Homo sapiens: one gene and its partners. The protein of the gene in region 4 purifies or fractionates together with the protein of the main gene of each other region. This does not show direct contact. Each region holds a gene or a part of one and is shown on either strand. Other genes may lie near its edges.

Region 1 (2,968 bases), on a different chromosome or scaffold from region 4:
CCCACACATGTACAGTATGGCCTTGGGGCAAAGGAGTTTGCCTTTTGCAAAGAAGGTCTTGCTTTGTATAGCCTGTAAAATGCAATGTACAGTGAGGGAAAGAAAGTCTAAGGGTAGCAGTCAAATCTTCTGGCCTGAAACTGTACTTTTGGAAGGGAGAACTGTTAGACTTGCTTTATCTTCTTTATTCCAAGGCCATAAATAAGAAAATCAACGAGAGGCAAAACCATGTCTTCTTTTGCTATAGCGTTAGAATCCTGAAAGTCAGCCAGCTCTGACACTGAGTCTGTGATTTAATTAAACATGTTGAAGGCTCTCCAACAGCTTGACGTCAGGCCAGCTTCATATTCTTGGAAAGGGACAACAGCAAAAGGAGCTTATCTGTTTTAAAGTTCACTTACTGAGTTCAGCTGTCACGGCCACAGCATACCATTTGCCTTATAAAAATGGCCCACAACCTTCACAATATTTTAGGATTCATGGCAACTCATTTACCTAGGGCTTAGCCACCTGATAGCTTTACCTATCCCTATTTCCTGAACACAAAATCTAAACCAGTGGTTTGACAATGAGTAACTGAGACAGAACTAGAAAAATCTAGAACCTCTGCTGAACCCATCAAAAGTGACTGAGAATTAAGAAGTAAGCAAACAAGGCTTCCAACCAATTGAAATAAATACCATGAAGCAAACGCATAAGACAAAGGCCATACATCTAGTCATCAGGCACCTCCTCAGAACCTATTTGCTCTTCCTTCACACATATTTCTAACTGTAAAGGAAAGAAACAGACTTTTAGAGGAAACAAGAAGGAAAAAGGAGGACAGCAATAGAGAAAATGGAAATTTTGAGTAGACTGCAAAGCTCCAAAGCCCTGATATATGGGTTATTTAGTGTCAAAAACAGTCTATACACATCTCAATCTTTAAGAGCCTCACTGTATCATGGGACAATATTCTATTTAAAATGATGACCCTGTGCACCATACATAAAAAAACTATGCTTAGAAGACAAAAATATGTATATCAAACATTTTAGAAATATTTACATCCCAATGGTTAAAAAAAAAAACTTTTAGGAATTAAAAGGAATAAACCTTTGACCATCCAGAATATTTAGCTAAATCAAACAGTGTATATCCCCCTAGCTGACTTTTATTGTTTCATGAGCCTCTGGTGTTCAGAGAGTTTTTTTCACAGCTTTGTAAGTGACTTTCATGCTACAGTGCTTTGCATATAATGGCATGAACAGTGGAGGTGCCAACTTTCCAATGTGATGAATAAAACTAATAACTAGAATACAGATCAAATTCTGTTACAACAAATACTGCTACCATAAAAGTCACTTAAGCATCCCTGTTAGTTCTAAGCCCCTGTCGATTGCCCATTTATTTTAGGCAATAGTCATTCAACAAAATTGGAGCATAATAAAAAGAAACTGGACCTCAGCGCAAGTTGAGTGTTACACAATTTAACCTGTAATAACAGGTTCTCACTTGTATTTCTCCAGCTCTTTGCTGTAAGAAGAATAAACGTTATGTAGATATAATACCAGCGTGACAGCTTGTGGTTGGTGGTTTCTAGAAGAAATAATTCAGAAGCAAAAGACACATGAAGTTATGTGGCAGTTCCTCACTAGGGAATTTGGTCTCCAGGGCCACTTTTGACCTTAATCCATGTTGGAGCCATCAATCAAAGAATTGCTTGCATCTAATAATGGTGTAATGCCAATACTAAGCCCTGGAACGAAGATAGGATTCATTTCTCATGGATTATTGAGCACTCTGGGGTAACCTGGCCCTGATCTGATGACGCTAAGATTTAAAAACCCAGATGCATGTGACTAGAACTATCTTTTCTCCCATGATGCACTGCTTTCAACACTGCATGACTGTAAAAACATGTGCCACGCTGATTATATATAGAGATGGTCTAAATCAGCTGCATCCCATTTGGTACCCAGGCAAGGATTTTTCCATACCTATCTTTTTGCTGGTGGTAATGATGAGTTTTGTCACTTGCTATAACATTCTCTGTCCGTCTTTTTTCTTTTATGTAAATACTTTTGTGACTTCATTGTAACCAGCATTTTGTAATACTCTTAACAGCAGAGGGGATTAAATCATGATTCACTTCTGAACAGTACAATCAGCAGTAGGAAAACGAGGAGGGAGGGAGAGGGAAATTGTCCACCACTTCCCAATGATAATGCCTGGCTCGGACCCCAGATTCACATCATACTTGAAGTTCATAAATTCTGGGCACTGCTCAGCTTGAGGAGGCAGGCATTGCTCCTTCATATTTCAGGGTGAGACAAATGCTCTGTTGAAGCCATGCCACTACAGGATACATTCACCTCTGCTTGCTTTCCTCCCTAAGCCAGAGTGTAGTTAAACATTTATATGTCCCAGGCCAGGAGATCAAATTAAGAGGAGGTTAGCTACTTTCCCTGGCTCTTAAAAACATTTGAGTCCAAGTATGGTTCTCTGGCTTGAGGGTGGCCATTTGTTGCCTCACTGTTTTTATTAGGACATCTGGAGATTAGAGGTGTTAATTGGAAGTAACTTTTCTATATTTGGTTTCTCTCCACACATTATGAGACCTTTTAGACCCAGTTGGATGGCTGTATCCTAGTATGAAATTCAGCTTCTAAGTAGGAAGAACTATGATAGAGGAACAAGATTGCTCTTTGACTTGGTGATAGTAGGGCAATAGGGAGTGTCAGTAGGGTAGTTTCAGGTGGGGAGGATGACAAACCACTGATAACAATAAAAATGGGTATTTCTCAACACTCAAGCCAATTTCCCATTTGATAACAAGTAGGTTCTGATCTATTTTCCCCAAATTAATATTTTCCCTGGAAGATTCTGACCTGTCTGATCAAATAAAGGCATTCCTCTGAGAGTATACCTAGCCCACTTGTGGCCAAATTATACTTGACTGTTATGTACTCAAAACAAGCTTTCCTGT
Region 2 (3,602 bases), on a different chromosome or scaffold from region 4:
CAATATGGACTCTAAGTAGCACATGAAAAGTTAAGGATATATATATACTGTTCCTTAGAGTAATGACTAAAAAAAAAAAGTACAAAATGTAGCTTAAAAGGCTACAAATTAAAATAGAATTTTAAAAAATATTTAAAACAGAGGCTACCCCCTCCCTCACCTGAGGATGAGAGCCCTGTAGGGATAACCCTTATCTCAGCTGGATTTTAGGACCATTTGCCTCAACAAGATGACTCTGTTGAAACCAAATTGCATGACTCCTTCCAAAGCTCCTGTTTTAATGGCTATAAAGGTATAGAGAGCCATAAAACTCAAAACTTTACTCGACTTACTTTTGCTCAAAGATATTGGTATTTTTTTCCCTACCTCTACTAGCACAACCATTTAACATTTCTAACATATCCTTTATTACCTTTAAACCCAGTGTTATTTATACGTACATTTGTTCCCCAACAAATAATACAGCACTTCTGTTATTTGCCCAGCATCTTTCTAGGCACTGGATAGGCAGCAATGAACTACCGTAACAAAATCTGTTCATGTGAAGCTTACATTCTAGGTATAAGAAACAAATCTATAATGATAAACAAAACACTAAGCCACTCAAGCAAGGTGACAGGTTGGACTTTTTTCCTACAGGTCAGTTTTAAATCACTACTTAACAGTGTAAAACTAGTTTGATGTCACTATATTAAACACAACTTGAATCAAGAAAAAATGCATGACAGGAGAATTACTTGTACATATATTGGGGCCCACCTCTGACTTACAAAATCAGAAAATGGGCAGAAAGTGTAGGGGAAACCCATGCATACTTGTTTTATGAAAGTATTCCCAAGGTAACTCCAAAATCCAACTTTTCCCCAAGTCTCCTCAGCTTTTCAATTTTACATAAGAAACTTTGGTTCTCAATTTGTTCTCAAACCATGAGCCACTTAGGCAGAATATAGAGACCCCACAGCCTACCTACTTTATAGTGAAGAACTTAGTTGTAAATCAATTGGAAAGGGAAACAGAAAATCCAAATGTATTAATTCTTAATAATTCATAGGTAAGAAGTGTTTTTTAAACTTGAGAAATTATGGCCACAATTTATAATCACTTATACAATCTTCCTCAATCCTCATAATTACCCTGTTCTGGTGATTTTTTTTTTAGCCATGTTTTTCAGTGAAACAACTGAAGTACAGAGAATTCAAGCAATTTGTCCACGTAAATTACACCTAGTAAATGGCAGAAGCTAAACTTCAAAGCCAGGTTTATCTGATGCCAAAGCCATATATTTTGTCCCAATGAAAATGCCAACACTAACGAATTGAAGCCAAAATGGTAAATTATAAAATGTAAACAAGTACAGACTCTACTATACAGAAAATTATCCTAGCCTAAACTGATCCATTCGTTCAAAGTTCCAGATAGCAAAGACTGTGATTTAATATAATGAAGCACTACTTCTTTTCAAACATTCATAGTAATTTTAAGGATTCCTTTTTATTTAATTTAGCATACCTAGAATTCACTGTGACTAGGTATACTATGAGCAAAAAATAAAAATAAAAAATCACTTGACCCCATTGCACAAGATTTAGCGTTTTCCTTTGCTACTCTCCTGGAGTCTTACACCCGGTTCCTCTTCCCAACCTACTTACACATTTCAGAACAAGCAATTTCTGTGCATTTTATTTCTATTTAAATTTACATATTTCAATTTACATATTTCAATTTAGTGAGTTTTCTTCTGATCGATATCATCTTTCCCCTTTCAACTTTCATCAGCAAATAATTTCTGGCAATAAAGTACAATCTGTTACATTTCCATGTCTCACAACGTAAGTGTGAAAATGACAATATGGTAAAGTAGACTGCTATCATAGTTCTAACAAAAAATGAATAAAGTATTGTCATTGTCCAGATTTATGCAGAATATGCCTGTTCGGAAATTCTGAGTTCAACATATGCATGCTAATACTTACACTAATCGGAAATTCCTGAAATGAGAGCAATTTATCTAGAGTTTATAGCACTCTCTGCTCTTCTAAGCATCACTATGTGAATTTTATGGTGAATTATTAAATTTCTTTCCCCTTCTCACAAGAAAGCAACTCAACAAAACCACACCTGTTCTCCCGAAGAAAGGATATTTTCCAATAGGAGATATAGTATTCACGAGAGCACTATTAAAAAAAAGATAGTTTTTCTCTCAGTTTCATCAAGCATTAGAAAGCAAAATATTTAATAACATATATAAGTACGTCAGACTGTTAAGCAGAAAACTGTGAATTCTGCAATCATCTCAAAAATTAAGAAAATGAGAAAATATTCAACTAATGGCTGAAATGCACTGCTTTCCAGATGATTTCCGTAGCAAAACACTTCTACCATTGTCACTTCGGTGTTCTCAGTCCAAGTTAGAGGAACTTGCTGAAACATATTGTCATAAAATTGCTAAAGGAAAGGGGAATCAATAGTGAGTTACCTTTAGTTGGCTCCTCTGGCTTCTAAATAGTAAAAACAGGTTTGGTGAATTTCAAACATTTTAACAGAGTTCATATTTAAAACAAAAACAAAAACCAAAACAAAAACCTTAGTTGCCCAATGGGGAAAGTGGTAATATTATACAATACAAAATAAAAACTGTCTTAAAATTATTCTAAATGCCAAAATATAATGGGAGGGGACATAACGGAACGGAATTCTCAGAAAATACCTCAACAACAGCCAAGCCCCCAAGGAACGGATTTTCCTTTTCAGGGAACAAATAGGAGTAACAGATTGGCTTCGCTCTTGAACAATATAAAACAAGATTGCTATGTACTTTCCATATCTGTACTGAAGGAAAACTTACTTGTTTTAGAAAAACCGTTTCTTGCTATTTTTTCCTGTCTTAATTTACATATTAGTGAAAAAATTGCCTCATGATATACCTCATAAGGCCAAAAAATTATAATTTGATGTCAGCATAGAATCACAATTTCAAGAAAATAAAAGGGTCAAAATACTCCTGTCTCTTTCTAGAAAAGTCACCAGGTACAGGTTGAAAATCCTTTATCTGCAGTTCTAAAATCTGTAAAGCTCTGAAAATACAAAGATTATTCTTAAGCATGTGGCAACTCACTTGAGAGCAAAACTTAGCATATACTGACTTGATACTTAATGTGACTTGATACAGTGCAGAAATATTAATGTGTTTTGACTAGAGGATGTTACTCCAGACCCCAAAAGGGGGGATTACTTAATATGTAGTATAGGCACTGCAGTTTTCTAAAATCTACAAGATACTGAAATCAAAACACTTCTGGCTCCAAAAATTACAAATAAAGAGTTGCAGAGCTGTCCTCCCTTTTGCTTCATAGTCATTGCATATGCCAGGTGTGCTGACTCATAACCATTTGAATGACTAGATTGCCAGGTTCAAGTACAGGGCTAGAAGTTGTGCAGACAGTTCTGGACATTGTTTTCTGTAAGAAGTAAGTAATATAAAAGCATTTGACTGGTCTGCAACTCTGTGTGGAGAGTAGACAGCCCAAATTTTCAGACACTTTAAGACAGTAAGACACAGAGGAGTGAAAAAAAAAAAAGACATTTTAATGAACCCAGTGACA
Region 3 (4,083 bases), on a different chromosome or scaffold from region 4:
TCGGGGAGTGGCTTGGGGAACGGCTGGGTGATCGGGGTGGCTTGGGCAGAGGTGGGGGCACAGTCTGGCCTGAGGGGGCCCCAGGCCGGAAGGTGGGGGACAGAAGTCCAGGGGAGTGAGTGCCAGGCTCTGAAGGACCCTGGCCCACATCCAAGGGCAAGGTCTGGGGTGGCCGTGGCAAAACAGGATCCTCAGGGCTGCTGTGGAGGGCCTCAGGCCGGGCTCGGAAGGAGGGGGAGAGCCGAGGGTCTGGGGAGGTTTGGATGCAGGGTGGGGAGCCTGTAGGACCAGATGTCTGAGCTGGAGGCTGGAGATGCCCCTCAGAAGCAGGGAGAGGTCTAGGGGCTGGGGCATCCCTCTTTCTAGCTGATGTCTGTCCCACAGAGGCTGCGCCTGATGCCGTGGATGCTGGAGCCAGGGCCTGTTCCTGAGTTGGAGACAGAACTGGACTGGGCACCGGGGAAGGGGTGGAGGGGAGTTCTGGGGGCTGCTCCTCAGAAGCCAGGGCCAGGCTCAGGCCAGAGGCTGCCAGTGTTGGCTTGGGTCCCACGGAGGCAGGTGGCTCCTGCTTCTGGTCTCTGGAGGTTGGGGCCAGATTGGGCCCCAGGGTGACTGGGGGAGATCTTGGCCCTGCTGAGGCAGGCATCACCAGCCCCAGGGACGTCGGAGCCAGAACTGAGCCTGTGGTCGCTGGGGGAGGCTTTGGTCCAGCTGAGGCAGACATCACCAGCTGGCCCACAGATGTTGGGGCCAGGCTGGAGCTGCGGTGGGCAGTAGCTGTTTTCTGCCCTTCAGGGGTACACAGTGGAGCCAGGATTGGTCGGGGAGATGCCAGAGCCAGCCTCGGTCCTTCCGAGGAAGCTGACATAGCTGCCCGTGGCCCTACAGGTGCCAGAGCCAACCTTGGTTCCGAGGGTCCTAGGGCTGCGTTCTTCTTTGCTGGGAGCTGAAAACTTGAGTCCACCTTGTGGAGGACAAGTCAAAGATTCAGAGTGACCCTAACCAGGGCATTGGGCCCCAACTTCCATATAGACCCTGGCAGAGTTCATCTAGCTAAGAAAGGCACATCTTTCCAAGGAAGTTCTTCCTACTATCTCACTTCAATCTATTCTGCTGCAGGTCAACTTCTGTCTTGGAGGAGATAGGACACAAAACCCTAACCCCTCCTTTAAGTCTGAAACCTCTTTCACAGATGGGGAAACTCAGACCCTGACTCAAATGAGGCAGAGTGTGAACCTAAACCTGAGGACTTGCCTTGCCTTCCTGGCTGGCACCCACACCCTGCCCATTCGGGGCAGCTTCCCTGGGCAACCCTCCCACTGCAGTCCCTGAAGCTCCCCCAGCCACGGCTACTGACCTGACATCCCAGGTCTGGGCACACTGGGGACAGCCTGTTTCTTTTCTTTTTCTATTGTCAAGATACAGACCTACAGGTGCAGCTTGTTAAATACCTCTCCCTTCCTTCATAATGCCCAGAAACCCTCAGTTCCCCACCGCCCCCTAAACATCCAAATCCCTTGGTTACAGCCCTCTCTGTTCTCTTACCCATTCCCAGAGCTCCACTCAGGAGCAAGAGCTGGGAGCTGAGACTGGCTGTGTAGATTCAAAGCCCAGCTCTGTGTGACCTTAGGCAAGTACCTCTCTGCCCAGCGCCTCAGTTTCTCTGTCTGTAAAATGAAGGGATGGGGTCTAGGGTTCCTGGCCACATTATATTCTGGGGAATCTTCATCTCCCATTGTCTGCATTTATGAGCCCAACATTTGCTAGAATTCCATCTAGCCCCGTTGAATAGTCCATCCTCACCAAGTGTGAATCTAGCATTCAGAGCAAGTCCAGGATTCTAAGTTGATCCTGGTGTCACATCTCTCTGTGCCCAGGTTGTGCCCTCTTACATCCTCCACTTTCTCCCCTACCTGAAAGGACAGGCAAGCAGGTATCCCATTTATGTCCGGCAGGTGGGAGGGGTGGGGAGTCACGGAGTCCTGTAGAGACCTATCCTCCTTCCCCATCTATTCTCTCTGATGTCCCCTGTCTCCAGAAGACAGGATAAAGTGTCCTTCACCAAGGAGGGCAGAAGAATGTCTATACTTGCCCCAGGATGGCCCTAGGTAGGGTAACAGGGCGCAGGGAGGCCCTGCCTCTGGAGACGCACTTCTGTTTCTGTCCCGTATCCTTCTCAGTTCAGAGTACCTAAAACTCCATCTCCACCTCCCTTCTCAAACTCAGTTCTTTGAGGTGGCATTTTAGGCACCCTCCTTGGCTCCAAGTGTCACACTGTGTGCCGGCTTCCCCCCAACTATCACACCGCCTCCAGTACTAACAACTTAGCCATCCCAGATGTCACAGTTTTAGTCTTCAGCGACAAGCCCCCTCATTTTGCATTGGCTCAGAGAGGAAAAGCAACTTGGCCAAGGTCACACAGCAAAGGTGGAGCACAGCTGGGTCCTCTGATACCCAGTCCAGGACTCTCCCAAGGGCTCCTGGAGATGGCTAACTTCATCTGTCTCCGGGCATCCTGTCACTGCCCCTCAGCCCCCAGGGTGCTCTCTTCACCTAGCCCCTGCTCGCTGAGCAGAGGAAAGTACCAGCCCCTCAGTCAGGAGCACCAGGGAGCCTGCAGTGTATGTGGGGGGGGTGTGTGGAACCAGGGATCAGGAAAGCGGGGGGCACTGGGTCTCAGGGGTCTTACCTTGGAGGGTGCCCCAGTTTGGGCAACACCCTGGGGCATGGGCAGGGAACCCAGGCCAGCCCGGGTCCCTGGCCTCCTGCTGCCCCTGCTGCTCTGGCCCTCCATGTCTGCAGCCCCCGGCAGCCTGGACTCCCTTGGCTCCGGCTCCAGCTCTACCGCTCCCGGGAACCAGTGATGTCATCAGCCATTTCAACCTGCTGAGAATTTAAAGGCACAGGCTCCCACTTCCCAGCCTGGAAGAGGCCGAAGCAAGGTGGCTACCCCCTGGGAATCCTTCAAACTGGCTGCTGAGGCTGGAACAGCCATGGAGTGGGGAGGGGAGAGTGTACCCATCTGCCTGGCCCAGGTCCCAACTGGCAGCAGGAAGGAGGCTGTCTGTCTACCTTCACCTTTCTGCCGTAGGCCTGGTCAGCCCTTTGCTCCAGGGAGGGGCATTAACACACCTGCCTTAAGGTAGGACAGGTGGTTCAGAGGTCTGCACCCTCTCCAGGGCCTCAGAGACAACTGAGTTCTTGCCCTGATCCTGTGACCTTCCTGGCTCCCTGCCAGCTCAGAGCTTGCCCCGGCCCCCACCCTTGCCCCATTTTCAGGTCTTGGTGCCACCCTCTCCACTCCTACTGCCAGTCCCAGGCTCTATTCTTCCCAACCCAGAACCAGACACTCAGGCTCCAGCCACTGCAGTCTTTTCCCATCTCAGGCCTCAGCACCAGCCCCTCCTCTTCTGCAGACACCTAGCTGCCCTCAGATGTCCCCACAGCCAGGCCTAACCCAGCCCGGCTTCTGTCAGCTTTCTTCTCTCCAGTATTCACTGGGTGTGGTTTGGGAGGGGAACTTGCTCAAGGTCACCTGGTGAACTGAGAAGGTCTCCTGTGTTTCAGTGAGAAAACTTAGTGACCTAGGATGAGCACAAGCCCTTCGAGCTATCTGGGGGAAGGGAACTTGGGTGGAGAAGGGCCCAGCAGTGGGGTAACAGACTGACAAGAGAGTTACAAACAGGCCTGAGAATTGCTACAGCCAGGACCCAGCCCAGGACATGGTCCCCAACAGGCCTACGGGAGTGTTTGTTGAATGAATAAATGAATTAGAAGAGTGAATGGGTGATGAGGGTCAGATTGGGCTGGGATGGCTGTGGGATCTGTTTCTCATGGCTTAGAGAGGAGTGATCCCACCCACTTTAGGCAGAAAGTGTTCAGAGTTGTGTGTGCAGAGCTCCCTGTTAACCAACATGGAGCATCTGCATGGGCCTGTGCAGTCTCCTACATGAAGGCAGATGCCTCACTTTCCTCTCCTGAAGGCACTTCCTACCTCTGCTTGACTGTCAGTAGGTCTAGTCTGTATTCTCAGGCCAGCATCTCTGCTGGAATTTGCAGGGGCAGAGACTCAGGCCATATTAG
Region 4 (3,602 bases):
AGGAATGGAAAATAAACCCTTCCAAAGAGCTGACTCTCAAAGAAAGAAACAAAATTTTTTAGAGTAAGGATAAACCCTTGAAAATGTTATTGTATATCTAAAATCTCTCTAGACTTTCTAGTGATTGTACTCAAAGAGCAACAGTCAAAAACCTGGACTTGGGGTCAGACAGACCTTGTACCAGATTTGGACTTTCCAACTAAAGGGCCTGGGGCACGTGATTAAACATAAGTTTATTCATCTATTAAATTGTGATAATACTGTAATAATGGCTGCTTCATGGGGCTATTTTAGGGATGAATGAATATATGTAAAACACCTAGCACAGAAGAAGCACTTAAAAATATTTATTGTTTGAATGATTAGTAGCTCCTTCAGATAACTGTTTTGGGGGAAAAGAAGATGAATTAATTTGGGGCATGTTGAGTTCCTGTTAAGTGATTTAAATCCATTGTAAAGCCAGGCTTCTTTAAAGTCTTTTATACTTCCATTCCTGTATCATATTGCCTCTTGGCATTTCAAGATGAGTAATCTACAATGTCTAACCAGTTCTCTAGAAAAATTGAAGTATTTTTTAATATAGCAGAATATATTATACTTTGGATTTATGTATAGTTTGATCAACCTTTCTGAAATAAAATGAAACTTGATAAAAATGTATAGAGAATTCAAAAATTTCAATAATTATACTTGGTTTTATAGAAATTACTAATAAAATTATTAGCATTTTTTAAAGAAATAATAATGTAGGTAATGCAATACAAAACAAAGCCCCAATACATTAGCTCATATAATTTAAGAATTTCCTTACTAAGTTTTGGTCAGAAACTGCTGACCTAAGTTAAGGTTAATAAATAGATGAATAAAACAACTGTGATTACTATTACAATATTTTTAAAATTTTATTTCCATTTTACGTTTCGTAGTATGTTGACTATAGTGATTAAGCTTCATGAGCAGATACTCTTCATGAACTGAGTATTTCCAGAATGTCTTTACTGCTACTTTAAATTCACTGCTTAGGTACAGAAAAACCAGATTTTAAATAAGATTACTGACAATACATGAGGGACCTTTGTCTTGAAAACTCAGAAATTTTAGAGTGAATAGAAAGACACTTCCCCTTTACATAATTGAAAACAAGGTTTGAGAAAATGACTCATGCCCTCATTTTCAATTTATTTCATCCCAGAATGTTTGCCAACACAAGGCATATGCTAAGCCTGGCTGATGGACGTGGTGATTTTGAATTAGCCTGCTGGCATATTCACAGATATTTCATTTTTCAGAAACATATTGTTCTAAGTAATGCATTAAAAAGTTTTTTTCGCACGTTAAAGATATCCACCAAAAGAATTGTTTTTAATGAATGATTTCAAGCCAAGATCCACGAAGATCCTGGAGACCTGCAGGACATGTTTTCCTGATGAGATATTATATGGCTGGAATCTCTCTGTTGTTTGTCAACTGAGGTGCCTCAACAAGATGAAGAACATCAGGGCAGAACCTAGAGTAAAGGAAGAAGGCTAGAAATGCAATAAAAAATATGTTCATATTCCTTTTATTGATTAGTTAAGAAGAATGACTTTGAAGTGCTCAAATTGCCCTCTACACACACAATTTTGTTACAAGAGTCATGTCTATTTGTACCATTTAAGCATTGGGACACAGCTTACTTAATCCTGGGATTGTAACAGATGTACTTATTTTCACAAACTTTGAAATTCAGAAAAATAATGATTTCATTCCTTTGGCTTTATTTCAGGGAGGGATCTCACTTTTTAGATGTGACTATGACATCCTAGTCATGTTCTAGTCCATTCCATTCTGAAATGACTGAACCGAATCCTACTCTGAACACGCTGAAAGGCAATATCGAATGTTGACTGTAGTGAAGATAAGAATTTTGCATATTCTGACTGGAATTATTGTGAGTGCCTGAACAAGCATTCATGTGCATGTCTATGTATGTGTCAGGATGAGATCAGTCTTTTAAGTAAAACAACAAAGGAAAGGTTATAAATAAATGTTAACAAATACCTTGAAAGTAAATTGCTCATTGAAGACAGGATTAAGGGTTTTTCGGTGGACTTTTGTCTCAAATTTCTTCTTCTTATCAGGTAGCAGAAACACTTTCACGTAAGGATCAGATGTGCCCCCCATGTCCAAGGCGGGCAGTTCGGCAGCCTGAATGATCCCTACCAGCAGCTGAAATAAATGACAGAATACAGCATACATAAATATCAGTGGACATTTTGGAAAAGATCGATTTGTTCACAATGCTGCATATTGGGATTTCTCCCTCTTCCTATTTATTTTTAATAAAACTCTGATTCTCTTATGAATCTGAACACAGAAGGCAAATGAACTGAGCTATGTAGACTTCAGAAACCCAATTATGACTGATGCAGGCTCTGGGAAGCCTGGTTTTAAGCACAAAAGAGGCTTTTAAAAGGTTGCTGATTGCAGTTAAATATGGAGTTCATTTTTGCAAAAGAGTTGTAATCAAATAACTTTCCAGTTGCTAAAAGCTCTTGTGCATTGTTTTTCTTTCCAGAGCATGATTTGTAAGTGAAAATGCATTGTTAAGCAATCACAAGTTTGTAATTACAAAGTGGGAAACTTTTATTCTTTATCAAAGCCTCAGGCTAGCTGAGTAGAAATTTCTTAGAAATTGGGTAGCATTTTGAGATAAAAAATAAGATCTTCTAGTTTCTATTATATTTGACCTTCACTGGTGTGCAGACTACATTTATTTTAACTTACAGTAGAATGATTATTATCTATGAGATTCTGTGTTTAAATATAGGACACGGAGTAAAAGAAATGTAATTTCAGCTTCATAGAAAGCAAGGGAGATTAGAGGTGAGGTTTTTTAATGGTGAGTAACTGTGTTTTTTATTTTTTCCAAACACCACAGAACTATTACATTTCTTTAAGTCTGTTTTCTTACTGATGCATTCTTAAGCCTCATTATGAATATTAAGGTATTATGGTATGGTTAATATTTTTGCGAAGAAAAAAAGAGGTGTGAGTAGACTATCATAGATACTCTGCCATTAGAGATTTTGTGTCAACAGACTGATTTAGATCCATATAGGTAACAAAGCAGACTCTTACTGTTATTCAAGGTATATGCTATTTTGTAAATGCAGTAACACCATAGGTTTTTACATCTCAGCCTGAAAAATCTGAGTTCATGCCTTTTTAGCTAGTAGAGTAAAAAAGCAATTCCCCCTCTTAAAAAAAATGCATAACCATTTTAATTGTGACCCACCGTGTACTTAAGTGCATTTTGGCTAGGTGGCTCAACTTTTAACATGGCCCAATAACCTGAATGATTATGTTGTTTCTATTTTAATGCTTCAATATCTTTTTTTTTTTTTGTGGAATCATGATACAACAGTGGCAATAAGAGTGCTAGATTGTAGGTAAACAAAACACAGACAGATGGTCAAAAAACAGCTAAAATAGGCATCGGATTATAAAGACATGATTAGTAAAGGAAACAGTCTGTCTCTTTGTTTGCTAAGTAGGTATTTGGTATTTACCTTTATGTAGTAATGCGAATAAGTAAGATTCTACTTCCTCATCCTCACTTT

Evidence for each region. The genes of interacting proteins can lie anywhere in the genome.
Region 1: the proteins of SYT1 (region 4) and TRIM44 purify together in Homo sapiens (co-immunoprecipitation; one large-scale study listed by IntAct). This does not show direct contact.
Region 2: the proteins of SYT1 (region 4) and CWC22 purify together in Homo sapiens (co-immunoprecipitation; 3 studies listed by BioGRID and IntAct, with this or other methods). This does not show direct contact.
Region 3: the proteins of SYT1 (region 4) and INPP5J purify together in Homo sapiens (co-immunoprecipitation; one large-scale study listed by IntAct). This does not show direct contact.

Annotation. Positions count from the first base shown.
Region 1 is NC_000011.10:35,812,716-35,815,683, forward strand, and holds part of TRIM44 (tripartite motif-containing protein 44), read left to right. Parts: 3' UTR 1-2,968. UniProt on the Homo sapiens protein: May play a role in the process of differentiation and maturation of neuronal cells. May regulate the activity of TRIM17. Is a negative regulator of PAX6 expression.
Region 2 is NC_000002.12:179,997,255-180,000,856, forward strand, and holds part of CWC22 (pre-mRNA-splicing factor CWC22 homolog), read right to left. Parts: intron 2,653-3,602; exon of another isoform or gene 2,477-2,652; intron 1-2,476. UniProt on the Homo sapiens protein: Required for pre-mRNA splicing as component of the spliceosome. As a component of the minor spliceosome, involved in the splicing of U12-type introns in pre-mRNAs. Promotes exon-junction complex (EJC) assembly.
Region 3 is NC_000022.11:31,121,726-31,125,808, reverse strand, and holds the start of INPP5J (phosphatidylinositol 4,5-bisphosphate 5-phosphatase A), read right to left. Parts: upstream 2,844-4,083; 5' UTR 2,795-2,843; coding exon 2,690-2,794; intron 1,914-2,689; exon of another isoform or gene 1,804-1,913; intron 1,668-1,803; exon of another isoform or gene 1,546-1,667; intron 965-1,545; coding exon 1-964. UniProt on the Homo sapiens protein: Inositol 5-phosphatase, which converts inositol 1,4,5-trisphosphate to inositol 1,4-bisphosphate.
Region 4 is NC_000012.12:79,294,675-79,298,276, reverse strand, and holds part of SYT1 (synaptotagmin-1), read right to left. Parts: intron 2,209-3,602; coding exon 2,041-2,208; intron 1-2,040. UniProt on the Homo sapiens protein: Calcium sensor that participates in triggering neurotransmitter release at the synapse. May have a regulatory role in the membrane interactions during trafficking of synaptic vesicles at the active zone of the synapse.